Regions from separate parts of the Homo sapiens genome. Here regions 1, 2, 3, 4 and 5 are each linked to region 6. Evidence: fine-mapped expression QTL. A gene starts in region 6. Each other region holds a variant in brackets. All regions are shown on one strand. Distances are from middle to middle.

What was found. PIP is the estimated chance that this variant, and not a neighbour inherited with it, causes the effect.
Region 1: its variant is fine-mapped to the expression of SUCLG2 in whole blood (INTERVAL, PIP above 0.99).
Region 2: its variant is fine-mapped to the expression of SUCLG2 in tibial nerve (GTEx, PIP above 0.99).
Region 3: its variant is fine-mapped to the expression of SUCLG2 in unexposed skin (GTEx, PIP above 0.99). The same link has a PIP of 0.9 or more in T cells, sun-exposed skin and whole blood.
Region 4: its variant is fine-mapped to the expression of SUCLG2 in whole blood (TOPMed, PIP above 0.99).
Region 5: its variant is fine-mapped to the expression of SUCLG2 in whole blood (TOPMed, PIP above 0.99).

The regions. Positions count from the first base shown.
Region 1 is chr3:67,452,279-67,456,280 of GRCh38, reverse strand. All of the region lies in intron 9 of SUCLG2 (succinate-CoA ligase GDP-forming subunit beta), which reads left to right. Among named protein-coding and RNA genes, the nearest start is that of SUCLG2, 200 kb to the left of the region's middle. The variant C/T (reference allele first, on the strand shown) is at 1,787.
Region 2 is chr3:67,355,761-67,359,762 of GRCh38, reverse strand. No RefSeq gene overlaps it. Among named protein-coding and RNA genes, the nearest start is that of MIR4272, 130 kb to the right of the region's middle. The variant T/C (reference allele first, on the strand shown) is at 2,032.
Region 3 is chr3:67,377,256-67,381,257 of GRCh38, reverse strand. All of the region lies in intron 10 of SUCLG2 (succinate-CoA ligase GDP-forming subunit beta), which reads left to right. Among named protein-coding and RNA genes, the nearest start is that of MIR4272, 150 kb to the right of the region's middle. The variant T/C (reference allele first, on the strand shown) is at 2,405.
Region 4 is chr3:67,618,189-67,622,190 of GRCh38, reverse strand. The region is part of intron 1 of SUCLG2 (succinate-CoA ligase GDP-forming subunit beta); the gene reads left to right. Among named protein-coding and RNA genes, the nearest start is that of SUCLG2, 34 kb to the left of the region's middle. The variant G/A (reference allele first, on the strand shown) is at 1,780.
Region 5 is chr3:67,543,879-67,547,880 of GRCh38, reverse strand. The region is part of intron 2 of SUCLG2 (succinate-CoA ligase GDP-forming subunit beta); the gene reads left to right. Among named protein-coding and RNA genes, the nearest start is that of SUCLG2, 110 kb to the left of the region's middle. The variant C/T (reference allele first, on the strand shown) is at 2,198.
Region 6 is chr3:67,652,113-67,656,114 of GRCh38, reverse strand. It overlaps SUCLG2 (succinate-CoA ligase GDP-forming subunit beta), which reads left to right and starts at 1,503. Exons shown (of 11, transcript NM_003848.4): 1 at 1,503-1,612. The coding sequence starts at 1,529. It overlaps SUCLG2-DT (SUCLG2 divergent transcript), which reads right to left and starts at 1,418. Exons shown (of 7, transcript NR_109992.1): 1 at 1,013-1,418. RefSeq lists an enhancer at 1,197-1,696 and a silencer at 1,212-1,891.

The DNA of each region.
Region 1 (4,002 bases), 200 kb after region 6:
TGACCCAATTAATTTTTTATTTGATTGGTAATAAAGGAAGAGAGTCCTATGCAGTATAATTTAAGATATTCATGTATCAAGGGAGGAGGAAGGCCAGGCTGAATCCCGGAAGTCCCACCTCACTACCCAGACAGCAATCACATGATTCCAGGTTGAAAGGGATGCTGAAAAATATTATAAAATTGACATTCTGTTGAGATACTGCCACTAATGAAAGAAGAATTAACACTTGGTATCCCAATAGTCTCTGCCTTATACTGATCAATATCATGGGAGTGAATCACCCCTGATTGAGGTCTTACTACTTCCAGTGGTAGAATTAAATATAATAACAGTGGTAATAATACGTTAAATTTGAAGAGCCTTGGGCACAACAGTGCCCCTTACCCCACATATCCTTAGGGCAGGGTGATGGAGGTAAAGACCTGGAATATTGTGGTGTTCTTGCCGGGATTGAAACACTGGGTAGTAGAACAAAATGGAAAGGCCTACCCTTTCAGATACCCATATTTGAAAATCTTTATTCCTCATGCTTTTTCACTTTCTCTGCCATATTCCCTAAGAAGATCTTTGTCCCATCAGTGTTTTTTTTTTCCTCCACCCAGTACCTAGAGCACAGTACAGTGAATTTTGATTATAGTGTTTGTGCTAACATTGAGAATTACAAAATTGAAATTGTTTAAGTTAGAAAGTTAATTTCTGCATTCTCTCCCCATCAAAACTATTTTACATTGCCAGTATATATCACTTTCAAGCATTCCATTTTTAGGAGCAGGAAGAAATTTAAAATCTCCTCTTTTCCTCCAGTCTGATTCTGGAAAGTAGGCTCCCTTTTTAGTCATGGGATTTAAACTGAGTTGGTTAGGCAAACATGAAAGATGCTTATGGTGATTTATGCCCCACATCACAAGTGTATGTCAAGAGTGAAATAACGCCTGATGTGCAGGAGGATGGACCAGAAGACCCTCACTTACTCAAAGTGTGAGGAGGATGGGCCAGAGGCATCTACAATGTCCTTTTTGCCTTAATCCACAAAGCTCAGTTTCAAGTTATGGATTTGAAAATACTTGCTACAATTCAGGGACAAATGGACTAAAATATATATAGAAATAGAAAACTTGAAATAAGTAAATCTAAAACACTGAATATGTGAAATAGACCCTAAGAACTACATGCAATGTGTGAACTTTGAATGGATACTGCTTTGGGTATGTGTGTCTATAAAACATTCTTGGGATAACTGGGAATATTTCACTGCAGGCTGCATATTAGATGACAATAGGGGAATTGTTCATTTTCTTTTTTTTTTTTTTTTTTTTGAGACGGAGTCTCACTCTGTCGCCCAGGCTGGAGTGCAGTGGCGCCATCTCTGCTCACTACAAGCTCCACCTCCCAGGTTCACGCCATTCTCCTGCCTCAGTCTCTCAAGTAGCTGCGACTATAGGTGCCCACTACCATGCCCGGCTAATTTTTTGTATTTTTAGTAGAGATGGGGTTTCACTTTGTTAGCCAGGATGGTCTCGATCTCCTGACCTTGTGATCCACCCGCCTTGGCCTCCCAAAGTGTTGGGATTACAGGCATGAGCCACCACGCCCGGCCCATTTTCTTACATGTTGTAGTGTGATTAGGACAATGTTCCTATTTTTAGGAGATGCATTTGGGAGTGAAGTGTCATGATGTAGGCCACTCAGTATGAAATGCTTCAACAACTATCCATCTATCTATATATGTATAGCTACATATATCTCTATAGAGATAGATATAGAGAGGAAGAGAGGGAGAAAG[C/T]AAATATGGCAAATCGTTAAATACTACTAAAGGTAGGTAGAGGATACATGGGTAGGCTGTATAATTATTTCACCTTCTATTTTTTTTTTATATATTTGATGTTTTTCTTAGTTTGAAAGGTAAAAAAGTATTGCCTTGTAACCACCAGTGCGACCACAACCCTATCCTTTACTCTGTTCCTGGATCTCAAACCAATTTTTCATATTATTTATTCAACAATTACTCTATATACCAGCTACTGTTCCAAATCCTGGAGATATATAAATGGGTAAGATGTCGTCCCTCGTCCCTGTACTTAAAGAGCTCATGATTTAGAATGTTTCTTTTGCAATTTTTGTGCAGCTCTGTCAACTTCTTATCCAACATTGGGAATGAACATAAAAATTTACATCCACTTAGGCCTAAGAATATTTTAAGCAATTTATATTGATATAAGGCTGTCATCAGTCAGCCTATTAACTTCTAATTTTCTTGAAAAGTTTTATGTAAGAACAATAGGCAGTAATGGAATATTTAAGCCATTTGCACACACATACACACACACAAAATGCACGACAACGACAACCTTGGGGGTTTGCCCAAGTACATCGTGGCATTCTGGTTATATCTAGATATATTTCTGGCATACACAGCTAGAATTATGTTTCAACTGGATGGTCACATTTGTAACTGATACACATGTGACCAGTGAACACAGTAGTTTTCAAGAGGCATTGCCTTCTTGGGAGCCAAAGGCTTGATGTGGCCCCTCTATTAAGGAATATCAAGAGTTTCCCACTACTTGAAAATAACTGCATTGGAAGATTGTTTTCTTACTTCCTGATTTGTAGCCTGGTAACCAGTAAGGCAATACATATATATATTCATGCTAAATAATTTTGTTGTGTTCTGAATGTTTGTGCCCCTCTCCCCACCATTCGTAAGTTGAAATCCTAACCCTCAAGGTGATGATATTAGGAAGTGGGGCCTTTAGCAGTTGATTAGCTCATGAGGGTGGGCTCTCATGAATGTGATTAGTGTCCTTATGAAATAGGCCCAAGGGAGCTCCTTCATTCCTTCTGCCATGTGAGGACACAGCAAGAAGGTGGCACCACCTGTAATCCAGGAAACAGGCCCTCACCAGACATCAAATCTGTTGGTGCCTGGATTGTGATCTTTCAGACTCCAGAACTGTGAGAAATAAATTTCTGTTGTTTATAAACTATCCAGTTAATGGTGTTTTGTTTTAGACTATCAATAAGAATTAAAAGAAAATACTCATAAAAAAAAAAGAAGTCTGAATGTACTGAGGTAATTTTCTTCATATTATTCCTGTGAAAAGGAAAATGCTCATATAACTCAAAAATCATAATATTTGATATTCAGTGTTGTAGTCCTTGCTAATCAGCTGCAGGGTAAAGAAGAGAAATATGCTGAAGATGTTGGGCACGCAAAAGAGATGCATTTCAGGGTTATAATTAAAGAACTTAAAGGAGTTCAGAAAGAGAATGGGAAGGTCTACTTTAGACCTTCATCTATGATTACATTGAAAAGAAAATAATACCAGAGGCTCCTTTAAAACGTGCGAGATTATGCAGTTTCAAAAGGCAGTGCAATGGCTAGAAGATTCTTATATGTGTTACCAAGATCTGCAAAATTAAAATGGTATTCATGACTTGTAAACAAAGCTACTAATTGAACTATAATTTAGAAATGCGGTCCTGAATACAATTTCAGTCACAGAATGACAATTAGAGGAATTTATTAGATGTTATCTCTGATGCAGGGGAGTGTCTTGGGTTGGATTTAGTAATCTACTTGCTAGATGCTCAATAAATATTTGAGAGGGAAGGGCGGAAAGGAGGAAGAGTGGGAAGGGAGGAAGAGCTAAACTGGATGTGGATTGTTTAGTAAATTTGACAAGGAATTTGTGGTAACTTGAGCTACTAACTGAAACTTACCTGTTTTCTACATATTAGAAAGGGTTTAATAAAGAAACTAATAGAAGTAAAAGTATTCTTAGTCTGTTAAAAGTATTAATCATTACTGGCTCATTAAGCACCTCAAAAGCACTCATTCACATAAAATCAATGCACTAATTACAAACCAGTCTCGTCTTTGTAAAAGCAGGCCCAAATTTTTAGAAAATATTTCAATAGGCATAATTCATGGCCACACATGGAAAATACTTGAAACTTACAACCTTTAAAAATATTATGATAACTTATGCTTTTTAT
Region 2 (4,002 bases), 300 kb after region 6:
TCTCCTTTTTTCTCATTGTCCTTTTCACAAGAATTGTCATATGCCTGCTCCTACCTCAGTCATCAACAAGCAGAATGTAATTACCTTGATTCTCAGACTATTGCATTTTTAGTATCTGTGGTGTATCTTTCTCCTTTTCTCTTGCTGTTATTGTTTATTTATGCCTATTCTTAAAAAATTAGTCTTGCTACAGCCTTTTCTGTTTCTCAGAGAACCAAGCTGTGGTCACGTTCATTCGCCCCAGTGTATTATAGTTTTCTATTTTATGTATTTCTTGATTATGTTTGTTATTTTTTCTTCTGATTATTTTGAGTTACTCTTTCTAAATTCTTTGTCTAGATCTTTAAATACTTAACTCATTTATATTTAGTCTTTCTTGATATTGAATAGATCCATTTAAACTTACCTGTAAATATTTTATCTGCATCTCACTAATTTTGCAGTTTCAGCTGTCTTTTCATTGGTGTTCTATCCTAAATACTTTGTAATTCTCTCACTGTTATTTTCCTTTGGATTATGTTATTTAGGAGTGAATGTTCTAGAGTTCTAAATATATGATCTTTTATCTATCTTTTAATTTTTAATTTCTGGTTTAATTTCATTACAGTGAGATAACATAGTCGCTATGATATTGAAACTTTGAGATGTGTTGACATTTGATTATGATACAGTTAATTACTGTAAATGGCATCTTTGTACTTGAAAAGAACATAGAGGTACAAATTTTATTATAGTTCATTACATCAAACATGTTCATTCTGTTTTCAAATCTTTTCTACTATTATTAAGTTAATAAACTTAATAGAGTTGTGTTAAAAGTTCCCAGTTTCAATATGATTGTGTGTGTGTGTGTGTGTGTGTAGAGAGAGAGAGAATGCTGTTAGATGTGCATAAATTAATTATTATTATATATCTTAGGAAGTTATTTTTGTATCATTAGTAGTATTCTTCTTTAACCCTGTAATAATTTGGATTTAGGTTCTGTTTTATCTGATGTTATATTAGAACCCTAGATATTTGGGGATTACAATTTTACTGGCATATATTTTTTAGTTCCTTTCTTTTAATCTTTCTGCATTTTGTTGTAGTTTTTTAAGAAACATATAGCTGGACTCTGTGCACTTTACTCATTTAAAAAATCTATATCTTTTAAAAAATAAACTTAATTTCTTTATGTTTGTTGTGATTATTGGTTTATTTGTATTTCTTTCTACAATTTTTTGTTTCTTCTGTTTATCATTCATTTTTGTTTCTTATTGCTCCTTTTCAGTTGAAAAAGATATACACATACAAACATATGGTATTACTGGACTGTAAGCTGTTGCTGTAATGAGATAAGACTGGTGGGAACTTTGAGAGGGGTAAATACATGTTGCATCTGGGAGGAATGTAAATCATTGGGGATTCAAAGGACAGACTGTGGTTGGCAGATTCTAAGATGGCCCCTAAAATTCCCACCTTCTTGTATAATCTTCCCTGGAGTGTGGGCAGGACTGGTGCATATGATGGGACAGCACTCCAGTGCTTAGGTTACATTGTGCAGCCAAGGGGAAGGGATTTTGAAGATGCGATTTAAGTCTCTAATCAGTTAACTTAATGAAGAGGGAAGTTATCCTGGTTGGGCCTGATCTAATTATGGGAGCCCTTCAAATGAAGGTTTAGAGATCAGAAACAGGAGTCTGAGAGATTCTCCTGCTGACCTCAAAGAAACAGTCATTTTGTGAACTGCCTATAGAGGGAGTCAGGTGACAACGACGTGGAAATACCTCCTGGGAGCTGAGAGCAGCGTCTCGCCAACACTTGCAGGAATTCTGGGATTCCAGGCCTACAGCTGCAAGGACCTGAATTCAGCCAACAACCTTAGGAAGCTTGGAAGTAGATTTTTCCCTAAGAGAGCCTTCACTTGAGGACACAGCTAGGCCTACCCTTTGATTGCAGCCTGGTGAGACACTGAACAGAGAAGACCCAGCCAGCCTGTGCCCATACTCCTGACCCACAGAAACTCTGAGATAATGTATGTATTTTTATAAG[T/C]AGCTAAATTTGTGATAATTTGTTGTACAGATGTAGAAAACAAATACAGAAAGCATATATTGTATTGTTTACTTTTAGTGGCAACCCTGAATTTTTTTCACCTACCTATTTAACTATAAATATTTTAAACAAATCTATTTTTAATCATTTCTATCCTCCTACTTATCACAATTTAATTAACCAAATTGCTCCCTTTCCCCATCTTGTTTTTTTTCTCTAAACACAGTGTTGTTTAACACACACCCAAAATAGTCAATACTTCATTAAATTTGCTGACATATTTCATCAGTTTCTTTACTCATCATTATTTCTTTTCTCCCAAGTCTATGTGTTGTAATCTATTATGTTCATGGTTTTACTCATTTTTGTCTTTAAATACCTGAAACATTTATTTTAAAGCCATTGTCAGTTTCCTTTATAAAATAGATTTTTTCAGGAATAAATTCTGCTGCAGATGAATCAGTATTTAATTTACTTTTGTTTATTGTTCTTATTTTCTTTTCTCTCCTTCCCTCTTTTCCCTCCTCTTGCTCCCTCTTTCAGTTGTCTACATTCAGCAGCTGGACCCTGAGTCCTTATAATGTCACCTTGAGGTTCCTGCTCCACTGGGATATCAGTATAAATCACTGTGAGTTTTTCACAGGAATGCAAAATGTACATTCAATAAAAGTGTAGCGGTATGGGAAGGGAAATAGAAACTGAATTATGAACACGGCACTTACAGGCGCCTTAAGATGGGAGTGTGTGGAAAACAACTGCAGCCTGTAGTTGAAAAAGGAAAATGGTGCTGCCAATGGGATGGAAAAGTTTCTCCCCAGACACTGGATCCCTGTCACTCCTGATTCCAGTTGCCTCGCTTGTGTGCCTTTCCTTTGGTCCTTGTTGACACATAGAAGCCTAGCTCTTGGTAGCCACTGCCTATTTCGGAAACAGAGTCCAACAGGCCTCCATTTTCAGCTCCTTTTATGACTTTGTATTTCTGTTCAGTTTTTGGTTCCAGATAGATTTATCTTATTTTTTAGCCTCCACATATGTTATTACTTTTCTCTTTTAAGGTTCTGCCTACCCTTATTATTTGCTTAGAGGAGAGGATGTGCACCAGTGTTTGAATCTAAGGTGCCAATGTCTTGCCCAGAAGTCTCCTAGACATTTTATATACATTATCTCATTTAATCCTCCTTGCTATTCTTTGAGCTAGGCATTACAATTACCACTTTACCATGAAGAAACTGAGGCTCAATGATGTTAACCAGCTTTCCTAAGATCACACAGAGATCGAAAACCCAGAATTAGAACATAAATGTTTATGATTCCAGAGCATAAGATCCAGATTTCTGAATCTTATCAGGAAGGAGATATTGAAGACACCAATAAGAAGAGAGTGAAAAACTGATAGAAGAACATCTTGGGTCAGGCGCAGTGGCTCATGCCTGTAATCCCAGCACTATGGGAGGCCAAGGCGGGTGGATCACCTGAGATCAAGAGTTCGAGACCAGCCTGGCCAACATGGCGAAACCCCATCTCTACTAAAAATACAAAAATTAGCCAGGCGTGGTGGCATATGCCTGTAATCTCAGCTACCCAGGTGGCTGAGGCAGGAGAATCCCTGGAACCCGGGAGGCAGAGGAGGCAGAGGCTGCAGTGAGCCGAGATCGCACCACTGCACTTCAGCCTGGGTGACATAGCAAGACTCCATCTCAAAAAAAAAAAAAAAGAACAACATCTTGGAGGCTATGATGAGAAGAGTGTCCCAGCCTGGGCAACGTGGCAAAACCCCATCTTTACTAAAAATACAAAAAAATAGCTGGGTATGATGGTGAGCACCTGTGGTCCCAGCTACTCGGGAGGCTGAGGTGGGAGGATCACTTGAGTCAGGAGGTCAAGGCTGCAGTGAGCCGAGATTGCACCACTGCACTCCAGCCTGGAGGACAGAGTAAGAACCTGTCTCAAATACATAGATACATACGTACA
Region 3 (4,002 bases), 270 kb after region 6:
ATAACCTGTTTCCACTCTCTGCTGTTTTACTTTTATTTTATTTTATTTTATTTTATTTATTTATTTATTTATTTTGAAAATAGAAGTGGGTCTCACTCTGTTGCCCAGGCTGGAGTGCAGTGGTGCAATCACAGCTCACTGCAGCCTTGACCTTCTGTGCTCAAGCGGTCCTCTGACCTCAGCCTCCTGAGTAGCTGGGACTACAGGCCACCATGCCCAGCTGGTTTCCTTTTAATCCCTCTTCTCTGCGTGTCCCCACCTCCCCTTCCAGTTGTTCCCTCAACAGGAAGGAGGAAGCAAGTGGTAGTTAACGACAAGGGCAGGGTCAGTGGGCAGTAGAGCTATGCCTTCAAGGAGAAACCAGGTTGAATGCTGCAAAGAGATGGTGCCAGCATCAGGGTAGGGGCTGGTGTGGAAGGCACTTGGCAAACTCATTTTTTTCCTTTACTTTCTCTTATTCTCTACCTGTCTTTTTTCTTATGTCTGTTCCTTTTTGAGCTATTCCCCATGACTCTGTCTCTTGTCTCTCTCTTCATTTGTCTCTCTCTCTATCTCCCTCTCTCTCTCTCTACCCCCCTTTCCCCTTCTGTAACAAGTTTCTACCTGGTCATGATGGCTCTGCATATGACCCATTTCTCATAACAGATGAGCTTCATATTTGAATATGAGAATCCCTTCAAAAACTGCTTAGTTCTGAGCATGCCTAGTATATGCTTAATAATTAAGGTGGTAATTAAAGTGTAACTGCAAGTATAATTAAAATTCACTTTTGTGGATCCTAGAATTATGAAGCAATTAGGCATTTTCACATGGCACTGAAGGAGCAGCTGGGAGGAGAGAAGGGTTGTGGTTTTCTGGGAAACTGCTCCGTCCCCTTTCTTCCCTGGCCCTGTCCACCAGTGTTAGCCTGGAGCAAGGCCTCACTTGACTGGGGCACTTGAAGCTGCTACAGGTTGGGAGAAGTGGTAACAGCTTGGAGTCCTCACTCAGGGCAGTGAGCACAGCCAGCTCTTCCTGGGCCCTTCCCAGCAAAAGGAGCCACTCCCAAAACCCCTAGGTAACTGTGAGAGGACTCCAAAAAAAAAAAAAAAATCCCTCCTGATTGCACCTTGAGCAGTTTGCGGTATCTATTTCAACCCTATAGGAAAGGGTTGTTAGGACAGCAAGGAGATCTATCAAAAAGTACCCGCCCACTCCTCTTCTCGTCAAGCACACTTTGTATGTGGGAATCCATCTGGAGTTACCCCGTCGGTCAGCACGTACTGCTAGCTAACGGATATTGGGAGGTATCCAGTAAGCAAGTCTGACAAAGGAAAGTGGATGTTTAGAGGGGACGAGGGAAGCATCAGTAAGTCATCCCAATAAGACTTCATCCATGGTAAGATTTTAGAAATACAAGGTGCTCCAGAAGTTCATTGTACCAGCCCCTGCTTTAGTTGGGGCATGGGGAGGTGGTGATTAGAAAGATATCCCCAAAGAAATACCATTTAACAGATGCCTTGTGAATGAATGGGTGTCAGCCCAGTGGAGAGAGGTGTCAGCCCAACAGAGCTCTGGGTGGAAAGCCCAGCAAGGGCAGTGGCCCAGCACATCTTTGTGCTCATGAATTTCTAAATCATTTCTTTTCCCTTGGGAATACTGGTGCTAAGTTGGGTGCAAAAGAGGATATTAATTAAGGAACTAAATTATTTAGATTACTTGGTTGCAAGGAAGCACAACTCATTAAAGTTATCTCAAAAAATTAAGAAGATCAAGAGCTCATTTCATCCATACACATGCAAAGGAACTCAGGTAAAACTGAATAAGAAGTTATCTGAATAAGTGGGAACCGTGATAAAAAACTAGTCTCCAGAAAGAGCAGGATCTGAAATGGAGGAAGACATCAGGAGCGCCACTCCTGCACCTATCTGGAGGTCTTAGAGCTGCATTGAGATTGGAAGGTGCTCAAAAGAAGAAAGGAAGAGGAAGAAGGGCCTAGTCTACGTCTCTGCAGGAGGAGATAGAAATTTACACATGGGGTACGGTGGCTCATGCTTCTAATCCCAGACTTTGGGAGGCCGAGGCAAGTGGATCACTTGAGGTCAGGAGGTTAAGATCAGCCTGGCCAACATGGTGAGACCCTATCTCTACTAAAAATACAAAAATTGGTTGGGAGAGGTGGCCACTGCCTCTCATCCCAGCTACTCAGGAGGCTGAGGCAGGAGAATTGCTTGAACCAGGGAGGTGAAGGTTGCAGTGAGCTGAGATCACGCCACTGCACTCCAGCCTGGGTGACAGAGCAAGACTCTGTCTAAAACAAAATTTACACGTGTAACTGTCATTTACCTTCTGGTCCAAAGACTGGTTTGCTCCTGTGTCCATCAGGGCTTTTGTTTCACACTCTGTCATTACTCCATGAAAGCCA[T/C]GCTTTGATTAGTTTCTAAATTCCTTAGCCTGCTATCTAACACCTGCCACAGTCAAATGAATCAAAGTGCACGCAGGTTGTGTTAATGAAATAATACATTTTTACATCTGTGTTACTTACCTATCAGCACTTAACAAATTACCCCAAAATGTAGCAGCTTAACAAAAAGAACAGTTATTATCTCACAGTTTCTGTGGTCAGGAATCTGGGTGTGGCTTAGGTGGATCCTCTCACTCAGGGTCTCTCACAAGGCTGCAATCACAGTGTCAGCCGAGCTGTAGTGATCTCAAGGCTTGACTAGGGAAGAATTTGCTTCCAAGATCCCTTATATGGTTCTTGGCCAGATGCACTTCCTCCTTGGCTATTAGACCCAGAGCCTCAGTTCCTCATCAGCCGTTGGCCAGAGTTTGCCCTCAGTTCCTTGCCCAGGTGAGTCTCTCCAGAGGGCAGCTCATAGCAGGGTAGTTTGCTTCATCAGAGTGAAAAAAGAGTTAAAGGGAGCAAGACTGAAGCCACAGGCTTTTGTAACCTAGTCTCAGAAGTGACACTCCATCACTTTTGCCATGTTCTTATCTATTAGAAGTAAGGCTGTGGGTCCAGATCATACTCAAGGGGGACGGATTCTACAAAGATGTGACTACCAGGAGGCAAGAGTGATTGATCTTTGAAAACCATTTTAGAAGCTGCCTTCCACAGCATTTACAAAGTCATATGTTAGTCAAAATAATGCTAGCTCCTGTAACAACAGAAAAATGCAGAAATTTCAGAGTCTTAACATTATAGAAGGGTCTTTCTCATTCCCATAAGGTCTAAGAGGGTGAGTGGGTAAGATGCTTGGCTCCAGAGAGTTATTAAAGTATCCAGGCTGAAGGAGTCATTGCCATCTTCAAGAAGTGATTTGGCTGGGTGCAAGGGCTCATGCCTGTAATCCCAGCATTTTGGGAGGCCACGGCAGATGGAGTCCTTGAGTTTAGGAGTTCAGGACCAGCCTGGGCAATGTGGAAAAACCCCATCTCTACAAAAAATACAAAAAATAGCTGGGCGTGGTGATGTGTGCCTTTAGTCTCAGCTACTTGGGAGGCTGAGGTAGAAGGATCACTTGGGCACCGGAGGCTGAGGCTGCAGTGAGCTGAGATCACACCACTGCACTCCATCTTGGGTGACACAGCGAGAGCCTATCTCAAAAACAAAAAGCAAGACAAAACACAACCAGAACCAAAAAGGTGACTTCCAGGGCTGCCCCAGCTAGGAACACTCCAGAAAGCAGACAAGGAAAACCGAGTGTGAAGAGTCCCTTTGGAGATTGTCATGGCCATGTGACATTCCTTTGGCCTGAACTCAGTCACATGTCCCCTTCGAGATGCAGGGGGGCCTGGGAAATGTAGTTTCTGGCTGGGCAGCTGCTTTCCAGCAATAGCACTCTACTGCAGAAGAGGAGCAGGAGTCTGTGGTGCAAAGCCAGCCAGGCCTGCCACAGATACTGCACCATTTACAAAAATGCTTTTACACTCATTTCATTTGCTTCTCATCACAATCTATACCATCAGCTATACTGTCCTCATTTTTCAAGTAGGTAAGCAGACTAGCATATCTTTAGA
Region 4 (4,002 bases), 34 kb after region 6:
TCATTCATTGGAACCATTTTACAGTATTCCATTGGATAGGCCAATCTTATTAATCCTTAGCTTTAATGTCTTTGGTTTTTGTTATTTCTATGTAGCATCTCTGTAATCAAGGGAGGCCTTGTGTTCTCTCCTAGGAGAGAATCTCAGATGGGCCACTGTAGCAGATAGAGGTACTGTAGCCTGTTGCCCGCTGAGATTGATATTAAATAATGGAAGAAAGTTATAAGATCAAAGGCCCAGCAGCTCTGATGTGGTGGAATGATGTGCAGAAATGTCAATAATTAAATGTAATACATAGGCCATGTCTTAGTTCATTTTCTGTTGCTTATAAGAGACAGCCTGAAACTAGGTCATTTATAAAGAAAAGGAATTTATTTCTTATAGTTATGGAGCCTGAGGAGTCCAAGGTCAAAGGGCTGTATCTGGTGAGGGCCTTCTTGCTGATGAGACCTCTTCTGCATAGTCCCCAAGGGATGCATGGTGAAGGGGCTGAGAGTACTAGCTCTCATCTCTCTTCTTTTTCTTAGAAAGCCACCGATTTCACTCCCATGATAATCCATTAACCCATTAATCCATTCATCCTTGAATGGATTGGTCCATTCATGAGGGCAAAGCTCTCAGAACCCAATTACCTGTTATAGATCCCACCTCTCAATACTGCCACATTGGAGATTAAGTGCCATATGACTTTTGGAGGGAAGAAACATTCAAACTATAAGGCCAGTTTGGGCAAAAGATTTGAGGTTAAGATTGTTTTTAAAGAAGTGCCTTTTTTATGACTAGCAGGTACATCAGATTTACCACATGCATATCAACTAACATTGTAAAGTGTGTGTGTGTCTAATACTAGATTTCTTTTTTTTTTCCTTAAACCCACATCTAATCCACAAGTAAGCTTTACCTCATCACCAAACTTTATCCAGAATCCCCTCATTTCTTTCTGTCCCCACCTCTACTGCCCTTCTCTATAGTCTAGTTGAGAGATCAGCACACTGGCCTGCTAGCCAAATAAAGCTTTATTGGAACACAGCCATGCCTATTAATTTATTTATGATTGATGGCTAGTTTGCACTACAAAGGCAGAGTTGAGTAGTTGCAACAGAGTCCACCTGGCCTCAAAGCCTATAATATTTACTATCTGGCTCTTTATAGAAAAAGTTTGCTAACCTTAATCTGGTTTAATGCAGCTCTCTCCCAATTGGTTTTATTCTCCAAACAGAAAACAGTGGCTTTTCTAAAACGTGAATTTGATCTTCTCACTTCCCTGTTTAAAACTGAGTGAATGAAGTCTAAACTCTGTATTTGCCTTACCAGCACCTGCATTATCTGGTCCCTGCTGGCATTTTCATGCTCCTCTGTCACCATACTCCCTTGTTCGTGCACGTGCCAACCCCTTTCCTACCCCAGAGCCTTGGAACATGCTGGCCTCTCAGCCTGCTGTGCTTTGCCTCAGTTCCTTCACAGGTATACCTCTTTTCTGTCTCCAGATTTCTGCACAGATGTCATTTCTTTAAAGGTGACCACTCAGTCTAAAATTGGCCTGCACAGCTCATCATGTGTCTTTCTTTTCTTTTTCTTTTTTCTTTCTTTTTTTTTTTTTTTTTTTGAGATGGAGTCTCACTGTGTCACCCAGGCTGGAGTCCAATGGTGCATTCTCGTTTCACTGCAACCTCTGCCTCCTGCGTTCAAGCTGTTCTCCTGTCTCAGCCTCCTGAGTACCTGGGATTAAAGGTGCGTGCCACCACGCCCAGCTAATTTTTGTATTTTTAGTAGAGACAA[G/A]GTTTCACCATGTGGGCCATGCTGGTCTTGAACTCCTGACCTCAGGTGATCCATCTGCCTTGGCTTCCGAAAGTGCTGGGGTTAACGGGTGTGAGCCACTGCACCCGGCCTCATCATGTGTGTCTTTCTTTTCCCTCATAGCATTTGCTGCTCTGTAATTACACTCTTCATTAATGTGTTCATGTCTTTCTTCCCTGCCTCTCCTCCTAGGGCAAAAGCTTGCTGACCACAAAGAACTTGTCTGTGCTGATTACTGCTAGATCTTGGATGTCAAACACAGTGACCACATTATGGATGCAGTGGAAAATTGTTAAATGAATGAACAAAGTATAGGTCTGCCAGTTTCCTTGGTAGGAGTTAAATGCCAGTATATGTTTATATTACCTTAATTTGTTTTCTTTATCTATAAATAAATCTTGCCTACTTCTGTTTGCAGGGTAAAATTAAGGTGATTTTCTTCTACAACATGATTGAGCTAGCATACTCTCCAGGAGGGAACAGACAGGCATTCTGAAAGGATGTTTGGTATTTTTAGAGCCTTTTATACATTTGTTTCTGCTGTTGTGCTAATATGCTAATGTTTATCAAGGTTGTATTTTTTTCCCTCCCTTTTCTTTCTTGCTGCTGGCAGAGCAGCATTATAGAGTTATGCAGCAAACTCTCCTTTGGGCATTTGTCATTACTACAAAGTGTTTTACATTTCTTTGCTCCTTAAAATATATGCTGCTTTTCTGCTGAACCTAGGATAAAAAGAACAAGGCAGTATCTTTGCGAATCTTAATTCTTTCGAGTTAGGGAAACCGATCCAGCAACCTCTCTTTCACACCTTCCCATTTTCCCAGTGAACCTCATATTCGGTACAGCTCTGTACCTTCCTGCAGTGAAATCTATAAACCAGAGCCTCCTGCTTCTTTTGCCCCAGTTGACTTCAAGGCTCAGGGCCCATGGTTGTGCACTGGGAGATAATACACCAGCACTGCCTAGTTAAAGGGCACAGGCTCCTCAGTCAGACATACCTGTATTTGAAATATGGCTTTGCCTCCAACCAGCTGTGTCACCCTGAGCAGGCACTTAGTTACTCTGAACCTTCTTTTGCTTATCTGTAAAATGAGCTTCTGCTGGTATCTTCCTTTAATTGGAGAATCTCACGAGGTAATGCTTTCCAAGTGGAATAACACAGTTTCTGGAATTTCATGGGACTCAGAAATGTTCACTAGTATTTGATTTGGATCAGCAACGTAAGACTTTGCCAAGGCACCCCAAGAAGAATGAATTCTAAAATAGCAACCTGCTGTGATCCAGTTTCTGGATAATCTGAAAGCTCAACTGTCAATTCTTTTTTGGAAGTACAGATGATTTTATTATTATTATTTTAAACTGATGCTGCTTGCTTTACTGCTAGAGGCCTTAGATAAGACATGTGGCACTATCAGAGATGCGTTGTCAATGGAACAAAAATGGTCTCGGACGCTGGTCTGATCCTAGTCTGATGTCCTGTGAAGAATAACTCAAGTGTTGTTTCTCTTGATGCGGGAACTTTAAAGTACTTTTCTTCTCTAGCTATCCACTCTAATTAAGTTTTACATCCCTTCAACGCTGGCTTTTCAGGTACCATATCGTCATTATTATTATTACCAATTTGTCAGCTGCTTTATTTGTTCATACTTTAAAATGGAAAACAGTAATTTTAGGTCAGGAATGGCAGTATAGTTTTTGTCTGTGGTGGTTCCAAGTAGTTTTTAATTGACACAGGATTTACAGACTGACTAAAAAGAGAAAAAGTCAGATGTGATAATAGAAAGCTCATGGGTTTTTTTTAGGCAGGGGGACCTGGATTCAAATCGTGACTCTCTCTTAATCAGCTGAGTGGCCTTAGACAAGCTACTTAACCAACCTGTCTCACCTTCAGACTTCTTCTGTGAGATGGGGATAACCTAGTTCAAATGAGATGAAAAGTAAATTTACTTATAGTAAGTAGCACATTTTTTCTTTTTGAGACAGAGTTTTGTTCTGTTGCCAGGCTGGAGTGCAATGGCGAGATCTCGGCTCACTGCAACCTCCGCCTCTGGGGTTCAAGCAATTTTCCTGTCCCCGCCTCCCTGTAGCTGGGACTACAGGCACGCACCACCACACCCAGCTAATTTTTGTATTCTTAGTAGAGACGGGCTTTCACCATGTTGGCCAGGATGGTCTCAATCTCTTGACCTTGTGATCTACCCACCT
Region 5 (4,002 bases), 110 kb after region 6:
GGAGAGTGGCTTCATTAGGTTTGACAGAATCTCTCCCTGGCTTCATGGATCCCCCTTGCTGTAGCATCTCCTTTGAACTCCAAGGGCCTTCAGAGGAGAGGTGGCATCTGCTTTGTTAGACTTGGTAGCATTCCCAAGTCAGTGTTAATTTAGTTGATTCGTGAAAATTGTTCCCTTTGCATAAGGCTAGGACATCTTCTTTTCTGGAGTTATTCTGTTTTTAGCTTTTTGGACAGGTATCCTGGGAAATTCTTCTAGGGTAGCAAGATCTGCCCCCTCCCCACAGTCAAATCATGTTTATGCATTATGACAGACTGTTCCACCTCCTGCTGGGAGGCAATGAGAAAGGGTCAGGAACCTGGAAGAGGCTGCAGCTGGATTTAAGGGCACCAGTGCTTGAGGACGAAGGAGAGTATTTCAGGTAATTCTATAGATGTATTGTTTACTTCTGGATGTCCATGTTGCTGAAAACTAAAGTAGAAAATAGAGTAAAACACTATGTGTTCAGGGAGTATCTTAGTTCATTCTGGCTGCCGTAAGGAAATACCAGAGACTGGGTGGCCTATAAACAACAGAAATTTGTTTCTCATAGCTTTAGGGGCTGGGAAGTCTAAGACCAAGGCTGATGCAGTGTCTGAGGCGAGCCTGCTTTCTCCTTAACACATATTGCCTTCTAGCTGTGTCCTCACGTGGTAGAAGGGATGAGGGAACTCTCTGGGGTCCCATTTAGAAGGGCACTAATCCCATGCAGGAGGTCTCTGCCCCCACCTCCCAGTACTATCACCTGGGGGTTAGGATATCAACTTATGAATTTTGGGGTACAAGAGACCCAAACATTCAGACCATAGCAGAGAATGTGGGGGTATAGAAAAAACATTAGCCATATTAGCAAGCTGTGTGTGGATAGGAGGAATAGACTTATATGCTAGCTTTCCAGCTGTGATGATGCAATATGAATCTTTTTTGTTTGTTTATTTTTTGGGATGGAGTCTCACTCTGTAACCCAGGCTGGAGTGCAGTGGTACAATCTCAGCTCGCTGCAACCTCTGCCTCCCCGGTTCCAGCAATTCTCCTGCCTCAGCCTCCCAAGTAGCTGGGATTACAGGCACCTGCCACCATGCTCAGCTAATTTTGTTTGTTTGTTTTGAGACAGAGTCTTACTCTGTGGCCCAGGCTGGAGTGCAGTGGCACAATCTCGGCTCGCTGCAACCTCCACCTCCCCGGTTCCAGCTATTCTTCTGCCTCAGTCTCCCGAGTAGCTGGGATTATAGGCGTGTGCTACCACGCCCGGCTAATTTTTGTATTTTTAGTAGAGACGGGGTTTCACCATGTTGGCCAGGCTGGTCTCGAACTCCTGGCCTCAAGTGATCCACCTGCCTTGGCCTCCCAAAGTGCTGGGATTACAGGTGTGAGCCACCCTGCCCGGCCTGAAATATGAATCATTAGTGCAAATTTCTTGTAATGATTGGAATTTCAAAGGGTATCCTCCTGTAGGACTGCTTGGTTCATATGAAACAGGACTTGATTTCTGTGCCACACTAATACCATTGGAGAACTACTTAAAAGCTGCCAAATTTTATTTCAGTTTTACCAGATATGGATGCTAGCTCTTAAGTATTTTCCTGTGCTGTCTTGGGTGGTATAATTCCAAACTCAAGTCAAAAAATTTTGTATTCTTTTACTCCAAGAAGTAAAATTTATACCAGCTTGTTAATTCCCTCATTTCCCATTTATAACACTTGGCCTGACTTCCCCCAGTATGAATTCTAGCTCAAGCCAGGCATTGAAAAATAAGATGCAGAAAGTGCCAGAAGAGATTTGAATGCTCACATATAATCAGAAATGTCGTTTTGAAAACAGTCCAAGAAAGTAGGTTCAGGTTTTATGGCTTCTGTGGTTAGGTGTAGCACATTGATAATGAGTGTTCCAATTCACAGGGATTTAAGTGGATACATTCTTATTTGGGAGTGGTTCTGTGGGAGAGTGTAATGGAGGGTAGAATTTGAAGTAAATGTGGATCTCTCTGGCTGCTGGAACTGAAATTAGTTATCTGAGATATAGTCAAACATGCAAATTAAATAACTTGGAAGTATTGCAGGGAAGCAGGTGGGAAAAGGAAGAATGAAAAGGAGAGAGGAAAGGAGGGAGGAGGGAGAAAGGAAGAAAGCATGAGGCAGGGAAGGAGAGAAGGAGGAAA[C/T]CAAAGAAAGTGGCATAAAGAGAAAAGGAAATAGCTATTTCTCAGGCCTTCACAACCCTTGAAAGCCAAATATAAACTCTTCCAAGTTCATTGATACTGCTCAGTTTCATCCTCCAGGATGTAATCTAAAGTCCCCTCTGTGTTTAACATTCGAGCAATAGACTTAGATTTCAAAAACAATGAATGCATCAAGACAGGCAATAAAAGAGCAAGACATTGCAATTTAAAACTCAGTGCAATTTGAAAGCAGCATAACAGTTATGCTGGACCTCAGTAGATGTGTGTATCATGGGAAAGTGGTTCTGAGATCTTTCATCTCTCTTGGGGTAGGTCATTCCTGGCTTCTGCTTAACTCCAGCATGTCATTGACCACTTTACAAACTTTAAAATTGAAGACAAATGCCTCCTGGATTCCTTTTTATGGCAACAACATCAAGCTGTTGTCTGGAATTCTGTATCTCTAGCATTTGGAATTATAGCAGATTTAAAGTATGGAATATGTGTTTCTTTGCAGGATGGGAGGAGGGGAGCGTATACTTTATTATTGTTGCTACTAAATAATGCTTAGTATGAATCTCACTGACCCCTTGAGGAACTTTTATAGGAGAGTTAGCTTACCTGGCTGGGGGCTGTTTTATCTGAGAGTTAGCTTACCTGGTTGGGAGCTGTTTTGAGACTGGCATGATAAAATTATTAGAGCTCTTAAAAGTATTTGGGGTAAAATATCTAAATTTAACAAAGATGATCAATGTATTTTCTATTTATATGCTGTTCTTGAACATAGGGAAATAAACTTTAATCTGTAGAAGTTTTCTGAATATCTGAAATAGCAAATTTGAATGATTTATAGTGCAGGATCCTGGCATGATTTGCTGCTTTATTTGAAGTGGTGCTATAGTGATTTCTAGTTTAAACAGCAAACCATGAAAGCCAAACAGAAATAAATAGAAAAGCAAAGTAGCCTTTTTTTAGTTGTTTTTCACTCCATGTCCTTGCTCTCCAGTCCCATCTTCCTAGAAGTCTCACAGCTCTTCCTCATGACGTTGGCCAAGTACTCTTCTCTTTATAGCTGTATTGGTCCATTCTCACACTGCTTCCCTGAGACTAGTAATTTATAAAGGAAAGAGGTTTAATTGACTCACAGTTCCGCGTGGCTGGGGAGGCCTCAGGAAACTTACAATCATGGTGGAAGGCGAAGGGGAAGCAAGCACTTTCTTCACAAGCTGGGAGGAGAGAAAGAGAGTGAAGTGGGGAGTGCCACTTTTAAACCATCATATCTTGTAAGAACTTACCCACTATCATGAGAACAGCATGGAGGAAATCATCCCCATGATCCAATCACCTCCCACTAGGTCCCTCCCTTCACAACAGGGGATTACAATTTGAGATGACATTTGGGTGGGGACACAGAGCCAAACCATATCAATAGTTCTTCCGTCCTTTTTCCTTCTCAGCTTTACTTGACACCATTTCCCCTTCCTAATTTGCTTCTTAATGCTTATTATAAATTAAAAATTTTCAGTAATTTGTTTGTGTCTATTTCTTCCAGTCAATTTTAAGTTTACAAAAGGCAATGACCATGACATTTAAAAAAATTTTTTGAATTCCCATAGAATAAGTAAGTGCTCACTAATATTTTAAAAGGGCAAAACATTTTCCTGCCACTCCCAGTTTTCTTGCGTGACTCTTTAGGAGGTCATGTTATAAGGTATTCAGCCATGTGTCCTTAAGATATCTTCTAGAGGCTTCCTCAAATATAAACACCCCGACCCCATGTGGTAAAATGGTAAAGGCTGATACAGAAA
Region 6 (4,002 bases):
TCGTCTCGCTGACTTCCAGAATGAAACTGCAGACCCTCGCGGTAAAGATGGCGTGACCAGAATTTGTTCCTGCAGATGTTCAAATGTATCTGGGGTTTCTTCCTTCCGGTGGGTTCGTGGTCTCGCTGACTTCAGGAGTGAAGCCGCAGACTTCACAGTGAGTGTTACAGCTCTTAAAGGTGGCCCGTCCGGAGTTGTTTGTTCCTGCCTGTGGGTTCGTGGTCTCGCTGACTTCACGAATGAAGCTGCAGACCTTTGCAGTGAGTGTTACAGCCCTCGAAGGTGGGGCATACGGAGTTGTTCATTCCTCCCAGTGGGTTCGCAGTCTCCCTGACCTCAGGAGTGAAACTGCAAACCTTTGTGGTGAGTGTTATAGCTCATAAGGATAGTGCGGACCCAAACAGTGAACAGCAGCAAGAGCTACTGCAAAAAGCAAAAGCACAAAGCAACCACAACCTGGAAGGAGACCCCAACTAGGGGCCACTACTGGCGCCGGTGTCCAGCTTTTATTCCCTTATTTGGCCCCACCCTCATCCTGCTGATTGGTCCATTTTACAGAGTGCCAATTGGTCCATTTTACAGAGTGCTGATTGGTCCCTTTTTAAAGAGTGCTGATTGGTGCATTTACAAACGTTTAGCTAGACACAGAGCGCTGATTGGTGCGTTTTTACAGAGTGCCGATTGGTGTGTTTACAAACCTTTAGCCAGACACAGAGCACTGATTGGTGCATTTACAATCCTTTAGCTAACAGAAAAGTTCTCCAAGTCCCCACCTGATTAGCTAGACACAGAGGGCTGGCTGGTGTATTTACAAACCTTTAGCTAGACACAGAGCGCTGATTGGTGCATTTACAATCATTTAGCTAGACAGAGAAGTTCTCCAAGTCCCCAACCGACCCACCCGGCTTCATCTCTCAGCTTTACATTGATTTTAGGTTAAGGATAGAACAAAACAAAACACCCACAACTCCTTAAGGGATGGAGAGCCTCCAATGGCCTCTCCTTGACTCACCTGAAGCCCTGGGCTGCAGGAACCTCACCTGTCTCTATTCGTTAAAGTCTCAGCTCAAACACCACTGTCCCAGATAGGCCTCGTGACCGCAGGACTAGACCACGGTTCTCTGCGGAGGGCGTCAGCTCCGTGAGCCACCCTTCCAGCACCCACTGCCATGGCGAATATTTGCTTGTTTGGCCATCCAGGGACTGTTTGAGCCCCAAGACCGCAGGGCTCGGGGTCTGTCTTTGCTCAGGACGATAACCTGGGGACTGGACAGTAGGCCCTCAGGCCTTGGGACCGCTCAAAGTGAACCGGGGCCGGGTGGGGGACCCAGGGCTCTGCAGCCTTAAGAACGCCTGTGCCCCCGGGACGCAGGGGTCAGGCCCGGCCCGGCCCAGACCGCCTCTGCCTCCTCCTCCTTTTCCTCCCCGCGCCCGCTTCTCCTCTGACCCCTCCTCCCGCTGCTCCTCCTCCGCCTCCTTCCCCTGCCCGCGCCCGCCCTACTGCCCCGTGCCGAGTTTCCTGTTTAAGATGGCGTCCCCCGTAGCAGCGCAGGCCGGGAAGCTTCTGCGAGCCCTAGCGCTGCGGCCCCGCTTCCTGGCGGCCGGGTCCCAGGTGAGCGTGGGGGCAGGAGCTGCGGGCGCCAGCAGCGGCGCCGGCCTGCCCGGGCTTCCCTCGCCCCCTGCTACTCTTGGTCTCCGCCTGACCCCCTGCGCGGCCCCTCGGGCGCCCCACTTCGGGAGGTGACGCGGCGCCGGGTCCAGGCGCAGCAGGGAACCCCGCTCCAGTGTGGGGCAGGGGCGGCGCGGCGGCAGCCCCGGGTGCCTCGGGGTATGAGCGACCCAACGCACTAGAGTCTCCGCTGTCTGCCCGCGCAGACTCATGGCGAAGGCGCTGAAGCAGGCGCTGGACGCAAGTTTAAGAAAAGTTTCTTGGACCGGGTTTTGGAGCCCTGAGGTTTTATTGTCAGCTCTACTAATTCTGCTTTTCAAACTTCTGGCACTAACCCTGAGCACGTTTAGACCACGTGATAAACATGCCTGGAAACCCGTTTCAGCCCAACTAGGAACTCACCCCCTAGGGTGAACTTCCTGCAGGCTACCTGCTTTTGCAGACTTTTAATGTGCCTGAGTTGGTCAAATCCGTGGGTCAAGGAGAAAAATGGGAAACGATCTTTCTCCTCTTTCCAATGAAAAATCAGGGCTGTCACTAAAACGCATTAGACCATTGACCCTGTCCATGTCCTCCTTGTTGATGGAGAATGAAATCAAAGAGGGTCAGTGGTGGGCTGGATAGCGATTGGAACTTGGCCTCTAGCAGATTTTTACCTTCTGCAGATGGCAAGCGTTAAAATAGTCAGAAGGACTTCAGGAAAGTTTTGAGTTGGTGATGACTCTTGTAGAAATCACTCAACCACTGAACTGGTTAGTCTCCGTAGACTATCTCTCTTCCCTTTTAAAGAAAGCACAGTCTGGGATTCAGCCACAGCAGAGTTAATGACCTTGCCTATTTCCCCATTTTTAATTGATGAGAGGCAAATTATCACTCATACAATTTTAACCAGGATGTGCATAGTATAGTTTTTTAGAAAATTTAAAAAATAGTGATTAATGATTTTTTGAGTTCCTCTAAACTTTGGTTATGACATCTGTGAGCTATTTTTACCCCTCTCCTTTCATTTCCTGCCTCCCCATTTCTCTGTTATTGTTAATGTAAATTTAAAAGGTGCTAATACTTACTACTGTAATATTCTTAATAGGTGCTTGACAGTATAGTGAGGTAGCAAAAGGAATGGCAGTTTTGTCTAATTAAAACTCACTAATAACTGTTGTAATAGAGTAAGGAGAATAGCTCTAGGAGATGAAGTCCTATTCATTATTTAAGTGTTAGAAAAAACAAGAACTAGGGTGCTTACCATGAGTGTAGACTTGAATTGATGAGAAACATGGGGCCCAGGGCAGTGAAAACTCATGAATTGTACAGAGAAACTGAAAATGCAGAGTGTTTAGCTGAAATATGTGAAGCCTACTTCCCTAACCAAGAAATAAGAGGCTGAACGCAACACAGGAGAAAATCTGGTTGGGGAGAGATACTCTTGGTTTGTCAAGAAAACTGGGTAAAAAGATCTGTTAGCACGCCCCATCTGGTTACTGTGATTTACATATTTGTGGATGATGTGTTTTTCTGTAAATTCTTAGAAGGTAAAAGTAGGTTTTTTTAAAGATAGAAAGGTACACAGTGTCCAAGAACTGGAAATGGACATTAGCAATCATTTAGTCCAGCCAGCTCATTTCATGGGTAGAGAAATTGAGGCCTAAAGAAGTTCAATGACATATTCAACGATACAGTGAGAGTTTGTGGCATTCCAGAGTAAAGGCTTACCTTTACGTTTCCGTTACACCATGCTGTTTCCTGGTGAGTATATACTTCCTCATGAAAATATATTATATCAACATGCAAATTAATCTGCATGCCAGTAGTAACTATATAACATCCAAGTCATTAGCACCACTGACACATTTTTATTTTTTTCTTTATGACCATCTTAGAATTGTCCATAAAAATGGTGAGTATTGCTATTTTCAAATTCTTGGGTGCTTCCTATGATCTGTTTCATGTACACTGATTTGATATTACGTTTCCATAGTCCCTTGCCCGTGGCAGACATTGCAGTTAAACATGGCCCACTTCTCTCATCATACTTAAGAATCCTCACCAAGTGTCTCAGAAATCTGTTGCCACTCTTGGCCCAGACCTATTTTATACCACCAGGCCTTGTGAAAAACTGTTGTCTGTACAGAAATAAAAGACCCAGTTTCTGCTTAGAGAAATAACTTTAACTGGTCTCTCAAAGATACCCATAGAATGACATTTTGTCTACCTCCTCCCTATGGTTAAATTTAACATTTGACACATATTCCTGATGCTTAGTGTCATTGAAGTTTTTTTTTTTTTTTCACCTTTGCTGTTAGCTTTACTGTTTTGACTTTTGATTGATAGTACGT